Homo sapiens: one gene and its partners. The protein of the gene in region 3 interacts with the protein of the main gene of each other region in a biochemical or structural test. Each region holds a gene or a part of one and is shown on either strand. Other genes may lie near its edges. The genes, in order: SYMPK, MAFK and KAT6A.

What was found.
Region 1: the proteins of KAT6A (region 3) and SYMPK form a complex in vitro, tested with the Homo sapiens proteins (one study listed by BioGRID).
Region 2: the proteins of KAT6A (region 3) and MAFK form a complex in vitro, tested with the Homo sapiens proteins (one study listed by BioGRID).

Annotation. Positions count from the first base shown.
Region 1 is NC_000019.10:45,825,148-45,832,253, forward strand, and holds part of SYMPK (symplekin), read right to left. Parts: intron 6,442-7,106; coding exon 6,237-6,441; intron 5,058-6,236; coding exon 4,907-5,057; intron 4,059-4,906; coding exon 3,823-4,058; intron 2,772-3,822; coding exon 2,690-2,771; intron 2,477-2,689; coding exon 2,363-2,476; intron 1,227-2,362; coding exon 1,079-1,226; intron 185-1,078; coding exon 24-184; intron 1-23. UniProt on the Homo sapiens protein: Scaffold protein that functions as a component of a multimolecular complex involved in histone mRNA 3'-end processing. Specific component of the tight junction (TJ) plaque, but might not be an exclusively junctional component. May have a house-keeping rule.
Region 2 is NC_000007.14:1,526,563-1,533,732, reverse strand, and holds the start of MAFK (transcription factor MafK), read right to left. Parts: upstream 3,032-7,170; 5' UTR 2,835-3,031; intron 1,281-2,834; exon of another isoform or gene 1-1,280. UniProt on the Homo sapiens protein: Since they lack a putative transactivation domain, the small Mafs behave as transcriptional repressors when they dimerize among themselves.
Region 3 is NC_000008.11:42,041,939-42,049,044, forward strand, and holds part of KAT6A (histone acetyltransferase KAT6A), read right to left. Parts: 5' UTR 7,040-7,106; coding exon 6,440-7,039; intron 1,638-6,439; exon of another isoform or gene 1,566-1,637; intron 1-1,565. UniProt on the Homo sapiens protein: Histone acetyltransferase that acetylates lysine residues in histone H3 and histone H4 (in vitro). Component of the MOZ/MORF complex which has a histone H3 acetyltransferase activity. May act as a transcriptional coactivator for RUNX1 and RUNX2.

The DNA of each region.
Region 1 (7,106 bases), on a different chromosome or scaffold from region 3:
CCTGGTGGGCTCAGGGGCCTCACCGGCTGCTCAATGACCCTCAGCACCGTCCGCTTGATGTCGGCGATGGCTTCAGTGTACACGGCCGCCAGTTCGTGGATCAGCTTGTGGTTCTGAGGCAGGAGGGCCAGGTAGAGGTACAGACACTGCTTCACTGTCTCCTCCGTCCAGGGTGCTGCCACCTCTGACAGGGCAGGAGCGGGCATCAGATTGGCCCACACTCTTCTCCAACCCCCTCGGACCCTCAGGAATGTCCCTTCTTGGGCAGTGGAGCCGGGGAGGGCAGAGAAGGGAGCCGGGGCTGGGGAGCTAATTGTTCTAGGGCAGGGAAATGGCGGGGACCAGGACTTCCCACCTCCAGCCTCCCGTGACTGCCAACACACAAGGCAACTAGAAGGATCTTTCTAAAGTGCGATCCTGACCCTGTCCCTCTCTGGCTCCAATCCCAGCCATGCCTGCCCTGTGGCCTCAGAATAAACCCCCAGCTCCCTGCCTCACACTGTCTGCCAGGTGTTGTATGGGGTGGCCCCGGCCCGCTGCTGCTCTGCTGCCCTCCATGTTGGTCACATACCCATTCTAACAGTCCCGAGGGCCCTGGTCTCTTTGCCTTTGCATCCACCCTCCTCTTTGCCTGGTCCACGGCACCTGCTCAGCTTCTGGGCCTCCCGAAGGCTGTGCATCTCCTGGGAATGCTTCCTGGCACCTGGGCCAGGCCTCCCGTGCTGCCCTATCATGGCCCAAGCCTTCCCATTTAATGGTCCATTTACTCGGGGTCTGAGTCTACCTGTCTGTAATCCAGGGCTCTGCTGAGGGAACCTGCCTGAGATGGCCCTGCCTGGTCCTTCCTCAGGCCCCACCGATGGCTGGCTCTCCTCGTCCTCCAGATCTCTCTCCCTGACCCCCCAGGCTGGGCCAGATGCCCCCTACCCTGACTCCCACAGCCCCCAGGTGGCTGTCCCAGTCCTGCCCATTCCCGTCACTCGTGTCCGAGTGGCTTCCCCACTCATCCCCTCTGCTCGCAGGGCCCAGAGCGCGGACACAGCAGCGCTCAGTATGCATCTGATGACCTGTGCCCAACCTGTGTCCTTGTCAGCTCCAAACAGCACAGACGGTGGGTTGGGGTGCACCAGGAGCTGCAGGTAGTTGAGGGCAAATTTCTCCACATACTCCCGCAGCTGCTCCTTCTCATACATGCGTTTGATGAACAGCAGGGCCTGGGAGCGCACCTGAGGAGGAAGATGGAGAAGGGCAGGGTCAGGGAAGAGGTAAGAGGAAGAACAGCTATTCCTGCGAGCATGGCAACACTCACGTGAAAACAAGCCCGAGGCTGAGAAGGGGCAGCCCAGCTGTTACCAGGGCCCAGGGCTGGTCCCCAGTGCAGGAGGCAGATATCCTGGCCAGGGCCGGACCCGCAGCACCACCTCACTGCCTGCCTCTCCAGCCCATCTGCCCATCACTGCTTCTTGCCTTGCTCACTAAGCTCCAAGCAGAGGGAGAGCTCCTCAGTTCCTTAAAAGTGCCACTCCCTGCCAAGTCTCCCTAGAACGTCTACTGCCAGCTAAACCCTGTTTCACTCAGATATCATCTGCCAGGAGCCGTGAGGGAAGGGTCTGGTCCTGGGCACTCTGACCCCAGCAGCAGCACATGGCCATGGCCAGGGCCAGGGCCAGGGGTGTGAGATGAAGGTCTGCTGAATGAATGAAAACGCTACCCAGCAAGGGCTGGGGCAAAAGGCTGCAGGCAACGATGGGTCAAGGGCGCTCTCAACCACAGCACGTGCACATCTGTCCCCTCTGTCTAGAGCACACCCAGCTACTGATTTTCCAGGTCTCAGCGTACAAGTCCCCTCCTTGAAAGAAGCCTTCCTTGAAACACCTCCCCTGCCCACCCCACAACCAGATGGTCGGCCCCTCCCTCCCCAGGGCAGCCACACACTGCTCTGCTCAGCTGCTGAGCACGCTGTGTCCTCACTGCTGGCTGAGGCCACACCGGCTCCCCTGCTGGGCTGGGCAATGCCCTCAGGCCCCGGCACAGGACTGGGCTGCACGAGGAGCCTGTGCTGGCCACCACGGGTGGACTAAGAGCGAGAGTGGGACTGCCCTTCCCAGGAGGGCAAGCGCACGTGTGTGTGTGTACACACTACAGGCAGACTCAGGCACGGTAACCCTGGTTTCTAGGCAGCTTGATGCCACTGAAAATGAAAATAAAACAGACAGAAATAGCCAAAAAACCACTGAAAGAAGGGAATGGGCCCAGAGAAACTTGCAAGGGAGTGTGGAAGACGTGGGCTGGTTACTCAGGATAGAGGCGGCCTCTGCAAGCTGCAGGCTGAGGGCAGCCAGGAAGTGGAGGAGGGGATCACCTTGTCCTTCTCATGGGAGCTGAGGTCGAGGAGGACATGCAGGTACTGGAACTGGCGGGACGGGCGCTTGAAGATCAGGTCTCGAAGTGTGGACATGCCCAGATAGGTGCGACTCTGCAGCAAAAGGAAAGGGACCCGAGCTCAGCCCACCTGAGTGTGCCTCTGGGCTCTGTCTTTCCTGCCTGCCTCTGATCAGGTACCTGGACAAAAGGGCCCGGTCCCTCACAAAACCCCCGGCCACAAGGTTTAGACTGTGTGCCCTTCAGACCCCTCAGGGCAGGGCCCTGTCCCCTGCCCCGGGCTGCACTGACCAGGGCCTGTCCTCACCTCATCCTCGCAGTACTTGCGGACCACCTCCAGGGCACTCTCTGTGATGAGTGGCGCCTCCAGCACAACCTTGGTGAAGATCCTGCCAGAGATGGAGGGAGGGCCATGGCTGCAGAGGAAGAGGCCGCCTGGCTCCCGGGCCCTGCTGAATTGTAGGAGCTCAGGGCCAGCAGGCCCTCCCTCAGGGGCTGCTTGTTCAAGCCCCTGCTTATAAAGCTTTGGAGGTGAACAGAACAGGGTTCAAAAGCTGGCGGCTGGATGATCTGGGCAGAGACTGCACCTCTCTGAAACTCATTTCTTCCGTTTGTCAAACAGGGATTCCTAACTTTATTCACTGAACATAAGAACGGGAGGGAATGATGGCGGGTGGAGAAGGGTGTGGGTATTTTAGATATGGTGGCCTCAAAAGGCCGCTTTGAAGTTACAGTTGAGTACACTGGTGGATGAGAAGGAGCCACCCACACATAGAGTTGAGGGAAGAGCATTCCAGGTGGACAGAACAGGAAGCACCAGCGCCCTGAATTTGACATGTTCGAGGAACAGACAGAAGGCCAATGTGGCTAATGTTCGGGGGGTAAAGCCAAAGAGATTGGGTCACATAAGGCCTCACTGGTCACAGTAAGGAGGCTGTGTTTTATCCCAAGACCAATGGAGAACCATGGAAGGTTCCTTGTGGGGAAGTAATAAAAGGATTTATATAATAAAATGTTCCTGGAGCTGCTGTGTGGAGGATAGACGAGTAAGCTGGAGGCCACGGATAGGGAGGAAGCTACAGAACCAACTCAGGTAGTGAATGGGGTGTAGAGAAGTCTATCTCCAGGCCCATGGGTGAGCACTGTTATTTACAGATGGGAAAATGGCAGAGAGAGGGAGTGACAAAGCCACGCAGAGCAAGCTCAGAGCAAGTGGCAGAGCTGAGGAACAGCTCAGGGAGTGCGACCTGGAGCCCACATGCAAAACTACAACCTTGAACGTGCCTCCAGAGGGGGAGGAGGAGAGGAGACTTGGGATGGGTGCGAGGAGGACTGACTCGGGGGGTGACGAAGAGGGAGGTGGTCGCAATCAGAAAGGGAGGGCAGCACCAGGAGAGGAAGCCTCTCGGGGACAGGAGGGTGCAGGGTCAGCCCCCTCACCCATCCTTCTGGTCTGGTTTCTCCTGCAGGCCAGACAACAGGCGGATGAGGCAGTCCTCATACTTGTCCAGGGAGCCCGAGGCACCTGCGGCCAGGTAGGCGTTGTACTCCTGGTAGAGCCAGGCGAAGGCCAGGTCCAGGCGGGCCCGCACATCCTCCAGGATGAAGGACAGGACCTCCGCCTTCAGGCCCGAGTTGAACTGTGTCACCAGGCTGGCCAGGATCTTTATGCGGACCTGGTGGGAGGGTGAGCCAGCATGTCAGTGTAGGGTGGGCAATCCAGGGACTCCGCAATCGTGCCCTGCGACTTCTCCCACCCAGACGCAGGAACTCTCAGAGCAGACAAGGAGTGAAGCGAGGAAGGCCAGCCGAGGACCCTTATGCCTAGGAAGGTCCCGTTTGTGTGTTGGGGGGTGGGGGTACCAGGGTGGGGATCGATCATCACAGAATAAAAATGAGTTTCTAGGAGCAGCACCCATGTACTTAAGTGCACAGAAAAAGATCCTCAAAGATTCCCCTCATTTGTGCCTTTGTCACCTTTGAAGAGAGGGATGGGGTGCAGGTGATGGCCACGGAAGAGTACTGGATCTGGATTCCCCGGAAATATTTTTCAGCTCAGGGAGTATGTTCCTATACTACTGGCTAATCAACAATTAACTTCACAGAATGGGGAAAAAGTCACTTTTCCCCATTCTTTGAAGGTAACAGTGCCAGCAAGTGGCAGAATCAGGACAGAGAACCAGGTATATTTCTAAAGCTAAATAGTAACAGTAAGAACGTTAACAACCGTGAAGAACCAAGACCACAAGAGCAGCCCTCACTTGCAGAGGCCTCCCAGCACCTGCCCTGTGCACCTGAGTGCCTGTGCTCATTGCACATTTCCTCCTCGTCACCCAGGAGGAGCTGCTGCTACTGTCTCTGTTTTATGGAGGATGGGAGTGATCTGGAGAAGCGGCTGTGGGCAGCAGAGCTGGGGTCCGCAGCCAGGGAGGTTTGACGCCAGGGCCAGACTCTTCGCTGGATGTGAGGTAGACGTTTGGGTAGAGGGACTGGAAGGATGGGGTGGGGGGTGGCAGGCGCACACCTGGGCTGCCCCGCTGCAGGCCACAGCCTTCTCAGCCCGCAGGATCCGCTTCACAGCGCCCAGCTTCATGGCTTCCACCTGGGCATCGGTAAGGGGCTTCAGCACGTCGCTGAGACGGAAAATTTTCTTGCGCCCACCAGCGCCTGCCAGCCTGTGTGGAAGAGCAGTGACAGAGATGCAGTGACCCAGACTGCAGCAAAGGCCTGTCTGGTGACTCTCCCAACTTCAAGGACTAGGTAGGCAACAGAGATGGCCCCCATCCCCCTGCTGCCTCTCCAGTTCCTCTGTGTCTCTGAGGCACGGTGTGGCGGTGGGTAAGAGGAAGGAAGAGGATGTTATTTTGGTTTTGCAGAGGGCGTCTTACGGAAGGCTTCTGTGAGTGGGGATCTGAACGGAGGCAGGGACAAGATACACAAATGTCTGGGGGACCAGCTCTCCAGGCAAAGGCCCTTAGGTGGGAACAGACTTGTGGGCACGAGTGGAGGAGGGGTGAGGGTAGCAGAAGAGAGCTCGGAGGGTAGCAGATCCCGCTCAGCTGTGTTAGTAAGACTTGGGGCTGGGCACGGTGGCTCACGCCTGTAATCCCAACACTTTGGGAGGCTGAGGCAGGCGGATCACGAGGTCAGGAGATCGAGACCATCCTGGTTAACACGGTGAAACCCCGTCTCTACTAAAAATACAAAAAATTAGCCAGGCGTGGTGGCGGGCGCCTGTAGTCCCAGCTAATCGGGAGGCTGAGGCAGGAGAATGGCATGAACTCGGGAGGCGGAGCTTGCAGTGAGCTGAGATCGCGCCACTGCACTCCAGCCTGGGAGACAGAGTGAGACTCCGACTCAAAAAAAAATAATAAATAAATAAATAATAAAAAGACTTGGGTGGCCGGGACTGGCTGGATTTTGTGGTGTGTAAGGGAGGTAATAATGGGGACAATGATGATGACAGCCAGTAGCATTTACTACACAACAGGAACCACGCGAAATGCTTGACAATCACAATCACTTTTCACTCGAGTATCTAGTTACCTAACCATCACCATTACCACGAACTAATTTAATTCTTCTTTGATCCTTATGAGAAAGATACTATCATTATCCTAATTTTAGACATAAAAAAGGATTTTTTTTTTTTTTTTTTACAGGAAAGAGAACAGCAAAGGCTTAGTGGTTATGGCACTGACTCGGGAGTCAGAGAGAACCTATTCCAGACTTCCTTCTGTCTGCATCTCAGTTACACACACACACGCACACGCACACGCACACGCACACGAGCTGAGAACCAGACCTTCAGGGTAGGGCTCCTGTCCTGCCCTAGCACCCAGAAGAGGACTCACCGGGGCTGAGTGACAGGGATAATGGGCTCTGGCCTCCTCTTGGCCTGCGGTGCCTCTTCCTCCAGGGGGGACATGGAGCTCAGGGAACCCACCACCGAGATGGCTTGGCCCTGGGCTGACAGGCGCCGCTTGATCAGGACGCTCTCTGTCTTCACCACCTTCTCCTCCTTGGGCTCCTCCTTGCACTGTTTGGTCTGCTCTACACCTGAGGGGGAGGCAGCAAACAGACACCCAGTGCGTCAGACCCACCTGCTCCAACCCGAGGACCTCCTGTGTGCCTGGCTCTGTTCTGAGCCCTGTACACACAAAACCTCGTTTAAATCCACACAACACTGTCCTGGAGTGGGTACTCTTTTTATCCCCACTTTTCAATACAACTGAGGCTCAAACTAGAAATGCCATTCATTGCTGGGGGGAGCAGCAAATGCTACAGCCACTTTGGAAACATGATGAGCAGTTTTTGTTTTTTAGACTGGGTGTCACTCTGTCACCCAGGCTGGAGTACGGTGGTGCAATCAGGGCTCACTGCAGTCTTGACCTCCTGGGCTCAAGCAATCCTCCTGCCTCAGCCTCTCAGCCTCCCAACTAGCTGGGACTACAGGCGCATGCCAACATACCTAGCTAATTTTTGTATTTTTTTGTAGAGATGAGGTCTCCATATGTTGCCCAGCTTAGTCTTGAACTCCTGGGCTCAAGCGATCCTCCCGCCTTGGACTTCCAAAGTGCTGGGATTACAGGTATGAGCCACTGTGCCCAGCCCTCAGCTGTTTTTTTTGGAGACGGAGTCTCACTCCATCACCAAGGCTGGAGTGCAGTGGCTTGATCCTGACTCGCTGCAGCCTCCACCTCCTGGGTCCAAGCCATTTTCCC
Region 2 (7,170 bases), on a different chromosome or scaffold from region 3:
CCAACCAGGCTTGATCCCAGCCCTCAAGCATCACCCGCCTGAACCCACAGCACCTGCCCAGGCTCCGGCCTCCAGCGTCTCCTGTCTGGACCACAGCTTTGCCAAATGGGATGCCCTCACCCTGATCCTGGTGCCCCCCACACAGCCCCACAGGCAGTCAAAAGTCTTGGGGGTTCCTCCCAAACCCCGACTCCCCCACCCCAATGCCGTTTCAGGTTTCTGATCACCATCTGCAGAGAGCACGTGGTTCCCTGCCCTGCTTCTTCCAGAAACACTCCCCACTGCTCTCCTCCTCGCGTAGGCAAGCACCCTCTACCAAGGCCTGGTTCTAGATCCTTCTGGGGACAGGGGGCCTCCCCAAGGCATGGTGAGCTCCTTGCAAGCAGGGAGAAGGTCTTCCCTACACCCCACACTAGCCCCCGCTGTACGAGATGAGCCGGCCCCGCATGGGAGGGCAGGGAGAGGGCAGTCTCCACCCCAATACCTTCCCCAGGACACCCGACGCACAGTGCGGAGAAGCAGGAAGGCTCTACACCAGACCCCACCGGCCTGTGGGACAGGCCAGCAGACCTCATGGCCTGGGCTTCCTCATCTACAGCAGCTGGTCGGGGGGTGGGGCATGTGGCCACTCAAGTTCGCTTGTACCTGCTCTAAAACTCTATGATTTTAAGACGACACTCCCAGTTTCCTGAAACTGTAGGAAAGCGGAAACATGACGAGTCTGTGACTTATAAAAAGCAAAAATAAATAGCGGGGAAAGGCATCTTCCATTCGCGGAGAGCAGGGAGGGTGGGGACGGAGCGGTGAGTCACTGTTTACTGTTGAAAGGCGGCCACACGGAGCCCTCTCTCAGCTGGCCAGATTTCCATTTCCCGTGTGGACTGGACCCGAAACCCAGAAAGTCCACTCCAGAAACCTTTAGACTCAGAAACAGCTGGGACAAGAACAGGCACAACTTCTTCTCCGTCTGGGTGGCAAACAGCTTTGCCAGAGACTGTAAACAAACGCAGCCATCGCTGAGCCCCGTGGGTGAAAGCACACGCCTTGTAGACAGCGAAGTGGCCCGGAAGACGGTCTCCCTTAACAGCAGCCTCCCGGGTGCACACAAAGGCTGGCGCCCCGACAACCCTGACCCTCGGTAAACGCTGGCTCCCGGGTTTACCAGCACCTGGGGAGTCGACGCTGCGGGCAACCAGCCCCTCAAAGCCCTGGCTCGGTTCAAGGATAAAAGGCAGGAGAAGCCTGGTTTTTCTGCTTTAATAAATGTCTTATTTTGGAATAATGAGAGGTCTAGTTTTAAAAGCAGACTCCCTCTCCCAAGGTCAAACTCAGACATTCCTACTGGGTTACCTAAGAAAGGGAGATGTTCTCATAAATGGCACTGGACGCCCAAATAGGGTGTAGGTGTGTCCCAGACACCTGCACAGCCCACCTATGTTCTCCAGACCCCGCCCACGGCTCTTTTAATGCTCCATGTCCCTGAAGACATTGGGTTTGGAGAAGCTGCATAGGGCACCCCACTCTGTGTTGGAGAACCCCTTACAACAACACACCGTGACGGTGAAACCTCAGTGCCAGTAAAGAGACCTGGCAGCCCACCCTGGAGAATCAGAGGGGTGGGAAGGGCGCTGCCAGAGCCGAACCACACAGATATCCCCTAGACCACGATGGGGGGCGGTGGGGGGCGTTTTGAGTCTCAGGATCTTCCCAAGGCCAGGCACCTGGCCAGAGATTGGCTGGCTGCCTGTGGGTCACCTGGTGAATGAATGGTGAGTGGATCTAATTTCTGCCTCAGCTACAAGAGCTACTTAAGAAGCAAGAAAACAGCATGCTCAGGGACGCAGGACACCAGGAGAGGGACACGGGAGGCCCCGCGAACACGGACACACACGGTGTGAGCGCGAGAATGCAGTGCAGGGCCACTGCTGTGTCCCAGGCGGACCCAGGTCAAGGGCCAAGGCCAGGCGGGGTCCTGGCTTTCTGGGTTTCTCGGTGGCGCCTGGTCCCACCCCCCAGGATCTAGAGGCTGTGCAGACGCAGACACACACAGTCACGGGCACATACACAGTTTCCTGAACTTGACAGAGGCACAGAAGAACTCACGCAGTGGGAGCGGGAAGAGGCCGGAGCCCCTGCCCCACACGTGAGCAAAGGGACGAGCCTTGGGGCCACTGTCACCTGCCCCCCTCCCGCCTCCCCACGGCCTTCCTTCCAGCAACCCTGGCAGGTGGGCGGCTGAGAGCGACACCAGTCCCAGGATCCCGCCTGTGGGGAGACCCGGTTACCCCCACCCCGTTCCCGGGCACGCGTGACCCCAGCCACTGGGCCAGAGCGCCGCCCGTCACCGGGAGGAAGCGCGGGGGGCAGTCCGGGGCCGCACGCGGAAGCCACGCTGGGGCGGAAGCCGCGGAGAATCCACGCGCCCGCGCCCTCCCCGCACCGCCCGCACGTGGCGCCCGCCCCGCCCCGCCCCCCGCAGGTGTGAAGGCGCGGGCCCGATGCGCGCCGCCGACCCGCGTGGATCCTCGTCCTCCCAGGTCTGGGGTCCGCGCCCTGGGGCCCCCGGCGCGGCAAGCATGGCCCGGGCGGCACGTGCAGGGGAGAGAGCCTCGCGTCCCGGGGAAGCCCCCGGGCCTGCGGGGCGGGGCCCACCTGGGCAGGTGCCCGGGCCGCGCCGCGGGCCGCATGAGGGTCTCGGGCCCCGCGCACCCAACCCCGCCACCCTCGGCCCGCGCCCCCAGGCGGCCGTGACTCAGCGGCCAGGTAGCCCCGGCCCCGCGCCCCGGTCCCCGTCCCCGCCGCGGCCCGGGCCCCGCTGCCCCACCGCCCCTCACCTGGCGTCGCGCGGAGGGCGCGGGCGCGCGGCGGCTCCTCGCGGGCACGCGCTGTCCTCGCGCCGGCGCTCACTGTCGCGCTCCCCTCGGCCGCCGCCGCCGCCTGGCGCTCGGGCTCCGACTTCGCGAAGAACAACAAGTGCCCCCGCGCCGCCCGCCGCCACCGCACCCGCCCGCCCGGCTCCCCAGCATCTGACACCGCTTCCGGGATCCGCGGCGCGCGCGTCACACCGCCCTGCCCCCCGGGCCACGCCCCCTCCCCGCCCCGCGGCCACGCCCCCCGGCCACGCCCTCCTCTCCCGCCCGGGGGGCCGCTGGCCCCGCGCGCACCTGCAATCCCCGCGCTTTGGGAGGCCCTGCGGGAAGATCTCTGGAGGCCGGGAGTTCAAGACCAGCCTGGGCAACATAGCGAAACCTCCCTTCCCCCATTCTCTGTCTCTATAAACATAAAAAACATTAAGGCCAGCTGGGAACGGTGGCTCATGCCTGTAATCCCAGCACTTTGGGAGGCCAAAGCAGGAGGATCGCTTGAGCCCAGGAGTTCCAGACCAGCCTGGACAACACAGTGAGACCCCCATCTCTACAAAAAAATTACAAAAATTAGTCGGGCGTGGTGGTATGTGCCTGCGGCCCCAGATATTCAGGAGGCTGAGGCAGGAGGATGGCTTGAACCTGGAAGGTGGAGGCTGCCATGATTTCATCACTGCACTCTAGCCTGGGTGACAAGGTGAGACCCTGTCTCAAAAAAACAAAACAAGCAAACCAGCAATGTAAAAATGGGGATAAGCGGCTAGTGATCACAGCCTCTGTGGGTGGGGCCAGCCCCCTTCTAAAGCCCCAGCTGGTGGTTGCCAGGGGACACAGCAGGCCCAGGATGGGGTTAGGGCACCACTGGCCCAAGGAGTCCTGTGAGGGATCCTCAGGTGGGGGCGGGCCCCTGAGGGAGCTGCCTCTGCTTCCTGTCACAGGTGGAGGACAGGCTGGAGAGGGGATCCGTCTGGAGCCCCTTGCCACGCTTCTGGGTCCCCAAGTCCCGCCCCCCTCTGAGCGCTGCAGGAAGAGGAGTTTCAGGCCTGGGCAACCGAGGGCCCCCCAGGACACCCATGGCATCTGCCCGGGGTTCTGGGAAGCCTGTTTTCTCAGCTCAGGTGGGACCCGGGAGCCTGTTTTCTCGGCTCAGGTGGGACTCAGGAGCCAGTGCAGGGAGGTCTGTGCATCTTCTGGGTGTCGTCCTTACCACCATGTGGCTGGGGATTTAGGCAGCAGCCCAGTGGCCTCTTGCTGTGGAGCGCGGGGGCAGCCTCCCGGGCCATCTCTCCCCCCCACTTGCGGGTTCTGCACTGGCCACCTGGGAGGCCCCTCCTTGCTAAGGCCCACACGGCCGTCTGGGGCAGCTAGCCACAGTGATGCCTGCAACCTGGCCGCAGAAACAGGTGCCAAGAAATAACTCAACAGCAGCAGTAGCGACAATGTCCCACGTCCCCAGGATGTTTGCAGAAAGACATCCCCCGGGGATGGGAAAGGTGCTTCCCTTGTCCTGGCCCACACTCTGCACTCGGGGTCCTGGGATGCGCTGGGAGCCTCCAGAGAAGCTGTGGCCATCTCCGCGGGACTCTTTACGTTACTCATGGTGTCGCTCCTCTAACCCAAATGCATTCTTTCCATAGCAGGCTTTTGTTACTAATCACACACTTTTATTATCTCTTTAATTTTTTAATTTGTATTTATTTATTTCTGAGATGGAGTCTCACTCTGTCGTCCAGGCTGGAGTGCAGTGGCACCATCTCGGCTCACTGCAGCCTCCGCCTCCCAGGTTCAAGTGATTCTCCTGCCTCAGCCCCCTCGAGTAGCTGGGATCACAGGTGCCCACCACCACGTCTGGTTAAATTTTGTTTTTGTTCTTGTTGCTGTTTTGAGATGGAGTCTCACTCTGTTGCCAGGCTGGAGTGCAGTAGCACGATCTCGGATCACTGCAAGCTCCGCCTCCCAGATTTAAACAATTCTTCTGCCTCAGCCTCCTGAGTAGCTGGGACTACAGATGCCTGCCACCACGCCCGGCTAATTTTTTTTTTTTTTGTATTTTTAGTAGAGACGGGTTTCACCATGTTAGCCAGGATGGTCTCAATCTCTTGACCTTGTGATCTGCCTGCCTCGGCCTCCCAAAGTGCTGGGATTACAGGCGTGCGCCACCACACCGGCTGATTTTTGTATTTTTCGTAGAGACGGTTTCACCATGTTGGCCAGGCTGGTCTCGAACCCCTGACCTCAGGTGATCCACCCGCCCTGGCCTCCCAAAGTGCTGGGATTACAGGCGTGAGCCACTGCATCCAGCCTAATTTTTAAAATTTTGAATTATTTATTTATGTTTGTTTTATGAGACAACATCTCACTGTCGCCCAAACTGGAGTTCACTGGTGCAATCACAGTTCCCTGTAGCCTCCACCTCCCAGGTTCAAGTGATCCTCCCACCTCAGCCTCCTAAGTAGCTGGGACCAAGGGCTGGTGCTACCACGCTTGGCTAATTTTCTTTGTTTTTTTTTGTAGAGACAGGATCTTGCTCTGTTGCCTAGGCTGGTCTTGAACTCCTGGGCTCAAGTGATCCTCCCGCCTCGTCCTCTCAACGTGTTGGGATTACACGCATGAGCCACTGTGCCTAGCCAAAGTTTACTTTTTATTGTGGTAAAGTAAACATCACATAGAATTTACCATTTTAACCATTTTTTTTAAGTTAAAAAAATATTTTTTCAGAGATAGGGTCTTGCTACGTTGGTCAGGTTGGTCTTGAACTCCTGGCCTCAAGCAATCCTCCTACCTCAGCCTCCCAAAGTGCTAAGATCACAGGTGTGATTAGGTGAATAGGCTGGGCATGGTGGCCATCACACTAGGCCAAGTTAACCATTCTAAGTGTACGGTTCGGTGGCGTTAAGTACATTCACGTTGTGGTACAAACATTGCCATCATCCATCTCCAGAAATTTTTCATCATTTAGTAGTTCCTTTTGTAAAAAAATGTTAAGTTCTGGCTGGGCAAGCTGGCTCACGCCTGTAATCCCAGCACTTTGGGAAGCTAAGGTGGGTGGATCACCTGAGGTCAGGAGTTCAAGACCAGCCTGACCAACATGGAGAAACCCTGTCTCTACTAAAAATACAAAATTAGCTGAGTGTGGTGGCGCATGCCTATAATCCCAGCACTTTGGGAGGCTGAGACGGGCAGATCACCTGAGGTCGGGAGTTCAAGAGCATCCTGACCAACATGGAGAAACCCCATGTCTACTAAAAATACAAAATTAGCCAGATGTGGTGACTCACGCCTGTAGTCCCAGCTACTCGGGAGCCTGAGGCAGGAGAACCACTTGAACCCAGGAGGCGGAGGCTTCAGTGAGCCGAGATTGCACCATTGTACTCCAGCCTGGGAAACAAGAGCAAAACTCTGTCTCCAAAAAAAGAAAAAGTGTGTGTGTGTGTGTGTGTGTGTGTGTGTGTGTGTGTGTGTGTGTGTGTGTTTTGAAACAGGATCTCATTCTGCCACCCAAGCTGGCGGGCAGTGGCACGATCCTGGCTCACTGCAGCCCGGACCTCCTGGGCTCAAGCAATCCTCCTGCCTCAGCCTCCCAAGTAGCTGGGACTACAGGCATGCACCATCATGCCCAGCTAACTTTTATATTTTTAAATAGAGATAGGGTCTCACTAGGCTGCTTAGGCTGTTCTTGAACTCCTGGGCTCAAGCAATCCATCTGCTTCAGCCTCCCAAAGAGCTGGGATTACAGGCATGAGCAACTGTGCCCAGCCTTGAAGAAAACATATGTAACTTTCTTTATAACTTCAGAGTGGAAAAAGGTTACTCTAATCATGATTAAAAATCTAAATACCACAAAACAGATTCAAGGCAAAAATCCTCGGAAGTAAAGTCACAACACAAAGCACACACTAGGAAAAATACTTGCAACTCAGATCTACCAGGCAAAGGGCTCCTAAACGTGTATGAAAGAACACAACCAATAAAAGAAGGCAAAGGAGGTGAATAGATCATCCACGGAAAAAGAAATCCACAGGACAAACATGTGAAAAGGTGTCTGTAATCAGAGAAATGCACATCAGAGAAAGACATTGCCGTTCTGCTTCTTGTCCAGGCGAATCCCCAAATCAGATCTCGTGCCCCAAAGGCACGGCTCAGGGAGCGAGCCCTTGGACGCATTGCTGGTGGAGGGGCCAGGCAGCGGAGCCCCAGGGAAGGAGTCTGGCCACACTGTCCATGAGACCATGGCCCCGATTTGTGCTAGAACCCAGCAATCCCACTACTTCTTTGTCCTTCTCCTCCTCCTCCTTCTCCTCCTCCT
Region 3 (7,106 bases):
CCACATAGCCCTGAATTTAATAGCATGGACAACTATTTATTGCCTTTTTATACAGTATCAACGCAACAGAGTAATTGAAATTGAAATTTCCAAGCTTATATTGGTTAACAATTTTCTTATAAAATACCACCATTCTAACATATAAAATGTGCAACTATTCTACTATAAAGGTCATTTCCAAATAGCTAAATCAAAACTTCATCACTCTTAACTTTCAGTAACTTAAAAACATATCCCTGGCCGGGCACGGTGGCTCACGCCTATAATCCCAGCACTCTGGGAGGCCGAGGCAGGCGGATCATGAGGTCAGGAGTTCGAGACCAGCCTGGCCAACCTGGTGAAACCCCATCTCTACTAAAAATATAAAAATTAGCCGGGCATGGTGGCATGCGCCTATAATCCCAGCTTACTCGGGAGGCTGAGGCAGGAGAATCGCTTGAACCCAGGAGGTGGAGGTTGCACCACTGCACTCCAGCCTGGGCAACAAAGCAAGACTCCATCTCTCAAAAAAAAAAAAAAAATCCCCATTTTAATCAGTATCTCTACATCGAAAATTTAAATTCTAAATTCCTGTCAAAGCTCTACTTCCTCTATAATTTAAAATATAAATTCCAATAAAACAAAATAATTTGGACTCTACTAAGAGTTGACCAAATTGAGATGTAACTTAGAGTAGAAGGCAAGAGATTTATCATTGGATCTTTCTGCTCCAGGTTACCCAGCTGGGAGTAACCTGAACAATAACATTAGTTGACAATACCTACTCTTCCCTGTCCAACTGAACGCTTTAGCAAATTATAATTCTGTTCCAAAATACTATGCCACCAAATAACAATACTTTTAATGATCTGGCTGATTACCATGAAAGAGAATATTTTTCTGGGCTAGTAATACAGAACACAAACTATATATATTCAAGTAAATTATGTCAGTGTGTAAAAATGAACTCAGAAGTTTGAAATCAAGGTGAAAACTATTCTTGAAAGGAAATTGAATCTTTCCAAGACTCACTATATAAAGATAATTTTTTAAATGGACCATCACAGTCTCAAATAATTGCCTTGCCCACTAAACATATTATTATTTCTGAGTCATGATACTTAATTGTTATGAAAAAATAATAATGTAAAAAAATTACAGTTCATAAACTAAAAAAGGCTTTCAAAAAATTTATTTTGTATCTCTATTCTGTCTGCTTTAATCCCCTCACAGGACCTAAATCTTAAATCCACTGTTCATGGCAGGCATTCAAATGTTTGCTAAATAAATAATGAATAACTGAAGTAAATGGAACAAATTACCTTACAGTAATATCTATATTTCAAAAAGAAATTTACAAAGAGGAAGATGCTATTTAAGCCAGTTACACACTCTTCTCCTCACCTATAATCCCATGATTCAAGGAAAACAGTATTTCTGTCCCAAATTAAAGCACTCTGGTATAGCAATACAACTGATCCCTACCTTGCCTATCAGAAAATGTTAGTGACAACTGAAATGAAAATTAGTTAGCACAGAAATTATCTTTAAGGGAAAAAAATGGCATGTAGGTGAAACTTTTTTTTAATGGACCTCAGATATACAAAACTAGATTACTCCTAATCTTTGGTTCCTAACACATTCTTATCACTGGTCCAAAGTGAATTTTCAAATCTGTTCTGCAAAAAAAGAAAAATGGACACAATGAAGACGGGCGGGAATTTGTCCTTTAACAATTAGGAAATGTGCTATGAAGTTAACACCAAGGACATTCACGATTCTGTACTTGAGTGCAGTGATAGCCATCATACATTACTGCTCCTAAGAGGTGGTCAGTATGGCTATTACAAAGACTCTGGAGCCAGACTGCCCAAATTCAAATCCCAGCTCTGCCACCTAATATTTGTGTGACTTCAGCAAGTTACTGAAATCTCTTTTATGCCTCAGTTTCTTCACCTGTAAAATAACAGTAGCTATTTCACTGCTGGTACTGTTATGTTATTAATAACTAACTAACCTAACAGTAGCTAGTTATGTTAGAGGATTAAATGAGTTAATATATATACAGCATTAAAATAACGCCTGGCACATAGTAAATAAACACTTTAATAAATAAACTCACCATTAACTACCACACTCTAAAGTTAGCTCAAAAATTTCCCTTATAACATGGGTAAAAACTTTTTTTTTTTTTTTTTTTTGAGATGGAGTCTTGCTCTGTTGCCCAGGCTGGAGTGCAGTGGCACAATCTAGGCTCGCTACAACCTCCGCCTCCTGGGTTCAAGCGATTATCCTGCCTCAGCCTACCGAGTAGCTGGGATTACAGGCACCCACCATCATGCCGGGCTGATTTTTGTATTCTGTAGAGATGGGGTTTCACCATATTGGCCAGGCTGGTCCTGAACTCCTGACCTCAGGTGATCCACCCCCCCCTCGGCATCCCAAAGTGCTGGGATTACAGGCCTGAGCCACCAGGCCTGGCCTAAAAACTTTTAATCACAGTATCCCATGGATTCTCCTCAGTACTTATCAATGTGAAAAGAACACACTAAAGTTCCAATGTCTTCACAAAAACTCCTCTTAAACGTATTCCAACACAGTTGATCTCCCAAAAGGATCAAAACCACTCAGCTGCCGAAAATCTAACATACAGTTCCTTCCAAAGGTTAATATCACCAAAAAAAAACAAAAAGTTAGAATTGATACCAGAAAAAGTAAAGAGGAACTTGCTCGGGTTACTCCACGCAGTCTTTGAATTTCATCTTCACCTTACAGTTGGCCAGGTCAATAGAAATACCTGCATTAGCATCCCAGAGAAGACAGAACTGTTTCTGTTCCAAGCAGAGTGCCTGGCCCACAGTAGGTGCTCAATGACTATATGCTGAACCAATTAATTCCTAAAAGTGAAACTACTCCTGACCTATACACCTTCCTTTCTCCATCACTGTCAAATAAACTCTGGATAATTCTTTTCTTTTTTTGAGAACATCTAGGTTCGTAACAGCAAACTATCAATTCTGCATAGCAACTGACTGCGTAGTTCGAAGGAGAGGAAAGAAAATAGTTAAAATACAATAAAAGGAGCAGACATAATCTGTTCAAAGGAATAATCTCTCATCCTAGAGTTCACTGTATTACGATTTTTAATGTAAACTTTTCATATCTTTGGGGGAAGTCACACAGGAAATTCACTACTGAAAATAAGACTCCATTTAAAAATATAGAACAGAGCTCACCAACTCTAATTGAATAGATACTATCATGAAATTAGTTTTCCAATGAGATTAGTACATATACAAGTCTACCTGAAGAAACAAACTCTATTTTCCAACATGTCTAAATTTAGTTACTTCAGTTAACACTATAGGCAGGGTGGCTCATGCCTGTAATGCCAGCACTTTGGGAGGCCAAGGTGGGCGGATCACCTGAGGTTGGGAGTTCGAGATGAGCCTGACCAACAGGGAGAAACCCCGTCTCTACTAAAAATACAAAATTAGCCAGGCATGGTGGTCAGCATGCCTGTAATCCCAGCTACATGGGAGGCTGAGAAGGAAGAATTGCTTGAACCTGGGCAGCGGAGGCTGCAGTAAGCCAAGATCGTGCCACTGCACTCCAGCCTGGGCAACAAGAGCGAAATTCCATCTCAAAAAAAAAAAAAAAACAAAAAAACACTATATATGAAAGCTATGTAAGCAAATGGGCATTTCTTTTTCATTTTTTCAATTATTAAATCACTTTTGTTTTTCTTGCTTTATTTCTCCAAAATCAAATGTGGCCAGGTGCGGTGGATCATTCCTATAATCTTGGCACTTTGAGAGACCGAGGTGGGCAGGTCGCTTGAGGTCAGGAGTTGAGACCAGCCTAGCCAACATGGTGAAACCCTGTCTCTACTAAAAATACAAAAAAAAAAAAAAAAAAGTAGCCACACGTGGTGGCGCAAACCTATAATCCCAGCTACTCAGGAGGTTGAGGCAGAAGAATCGCTTGAACCCGGGAGGCGAAGGTTGCAGTGAGCTGAGATCACACCACTGCACTCCAGTCAAAGCAAAACAGCACATCTCTACTGAATTAAACTTTTCTTAATGCAAAGGTGCTATGAAATGGTCTCAACAAAGGTCCTTAGCTCAGCTGCAAAATAAGGACTTGGATTAGACGGTTCTCAGGGTCCCTTCCAAAAGTAAAATCTCAGGGTTCTAGGACTTGGATTTGTCTTGCACTGTACTATATTTACTACCTTTTAAAAATATGCTCAAATGACATTTTTATATAGCTAATATTTTTTAAAATTATCTATTGATAATTCAAGCAAGTGTAATTACAATAAAAGCAAACAACAGGCCAGGCACGGTGGCTCAAGCCTGTAATCCCAACACTTTGGGAGGCAGAGGCGGGTGGATCACTCGAGGTCAGGAGTTCGAGACCAGCCTGGCCAACAAGGTGAAACCCCGTCTCTACTAAAAATACAAAAATTAGCCGGGCGTGGTGGTGCATGTCTGTAATCCCAGCTACTTGGGAGGCTGAGGCAAGAGAATCGCTTGAACCTGGGAGGCGGAGGTTGCAGTGAGACTGCACCACTGCACTCCAGCCTGGGTGACAGAACGAGATTCTGTCTCAAAAATAAATAAATAAAAGCAAACAGGTGGCCTAACAGGAACTTATAACATCCAATTCACAGGTATGGCACTGAACTGATCTAACTATAAATTATTTCCTGTTTCCAGGCAGTTAACCTGTTAGATCATTTAATAATTGTAGAAATCCGATAACTGTATTTAAATTCAGCCACATGTGATAAAGTTTCTACAGGTAAGAGTTCTTACAGCACTTAAATATAGAATAAAGCATTTTAATTACTTGTCTACCCTGAATTTTTAATATATACTTTTAATAAATGCTCAAATTACATAGAGCCATTTTATGAATGAGATTCTCTATCAATTCATGACTGTATGAGAATCATTTCAAGGGTAATAACAGTAAGATTATGTTTTATTTCAATGTTCACAGGGAAAATTGAACCCTGAAATAGATCTCTAAAAATTTCATCAAAGAAAAATACCGTTAATTTTCAATTGTTAAAGAAAAATCTACAGGTATTCAGTGGGCTGCTAATAATACAACAAATTGAGATCAAATCTCCAATTTTCAAAATACATTCAATGTTAACTTTACCATCTTTCCACCCTAGGAGTATCCTCCATCATCTTAAGCAAAATGAAGATCATTTTACTTATGTCTACCAAGGTGTGCAGCAACTTAAAGCATCACTGCTCTCCAAGGAACTATAATTCAGAGCACCTTAAGTAAATTTACAGCTAAGATACTAGGTCAATGTAAAAAACAGGTACTAACAAAATTCTCCTAATCTCCAAATATCTATTTAAGCACCAAAATTTACTGTTTAAGAAGTCATAATTTCAACTATATACAATAACATCCTAAAACACAACAGAGTAAAGTACACATCTGGGCATCAAAACTCCCAACTCTCCAGAACTTTACCTTTCTTTTTGTTTTTAGAACAGGGTCTCAGTTGTCCAGGCTGGAGTGCAGTGGTGACAGCATAGCTCACTGGAGCCTCAGACACCTGTACTCAAGCAATCCTCCCCGACACAGCCTCCCAAGTAGCTAGGACTACAGGCGCGCCCATACCTGGCTAATTTTTCTATTTTTGGTGGACGTGGGGTCTCGCTATATTGCTCAGGCTGGGCTCAAACTCCTAGGCTCAAGACATCCTCCTGTCCCAGCCTCCCAAAGCGCTGGGATTACAGGCATGAACTACTGTTCCAGACCCTCCAGAACTTTTCTAGTTTAGGATACTGTATTCCTGTCCCATGCAACTACAGCTGTCATAAATAGCATTTAGGACTTCATCATATGCAAAGCCATAATACATGACAGAAAGCTATAATACAAACAGCAGAAACAAGAATTGCTAAGTTTGCTTAGTTGCGCCTATGGGTCATGAGAATCTGTCTCATTTCTGTCTAACGAGTAATCTGCAACAAAATGGAAAACAGAAAAATGTTCTCAGAGTCATCTGCTTGTTTCAAATTCAAGTCTCCATGATTTGGCTGCTCATCAACTTCCAGTAGTAAGGTGTTCTAAGAACCTTTAGTTAAAGTTTTAAAGTCTCACGCTGGAGTACTCCTCAAGCAAAATAATAAAAAAAAATTTAAAAAAAAGTTTTAAACTCATATGTCACTTTTTCATTGTAATGTAAATAAGTTCTTTTAGTCAGATTAACATTCTACATTTTTAATCTTAGGCTTCAAATATTTCAAAGTACCAGAACAAATCTATGAAGCTCTCATAGCTACAACTCACCAATAAAAAACCAGAGGTGATCACTCCACAGAAGTCCCCAAACAAAAAACTTGAATATAACTTCCCAGAAATGTGAATTTGTAGCATCCTATATCATCAGCTCTATAAACCCCGAAGCATATGCCATTCTTACCTTATCCTTTTCATGTGGAAGAAGGGACACTGGAGGTAAACAGGAAAGAGACTCACAACTCTCTTTCCCATCCACGTTGGTTGCTTTAGTGTTGAGCCGATAAAGAGGTCCATCTTTAAGGAGTCTGCCGTGGCCAATGGCACGTTTGATAGCCAATCGTAACTGCTGGTGAAAGCCAGAGGCAGCACTGCCTCCGAATAATGCAGACACATCCTTCTGACCTTTCAAAAAACGTTCAATGCTTTTCAAAGTTGAGCCACCAGACTCTGCCAAGCCCTCAACTGCCCGCTTTATCAGTTTATTCCAATCCACATTTTGTTTATTATCCAATTTTCCATGGTTCCGAGGCTTAGGAAGTGCTATTCGCCCAGGATTATCAGGATCTTTATAGGAATTGAGTCCTTTATTTGAGACTTTTAAAATTGTTCCATCTTTAACACTCAACTCCAATTGTTCTAAAACAGTTTTACGATCCAAGCCATGGGATGAAGACACAGCATTGCATATCCTTTCTTCTGAAGGACGCTGTTTCTGCTTTTTCACTTTTTTGATGGCCTCCAAAATCCACTCAGTATAAAGCGGGTTTGCGAGTTTTACCATGGTGAAGGATTCTGTATATCCATAGAGTCGTTATCCCTTATCCTGATGCTGAGTAAGTTTTACACCA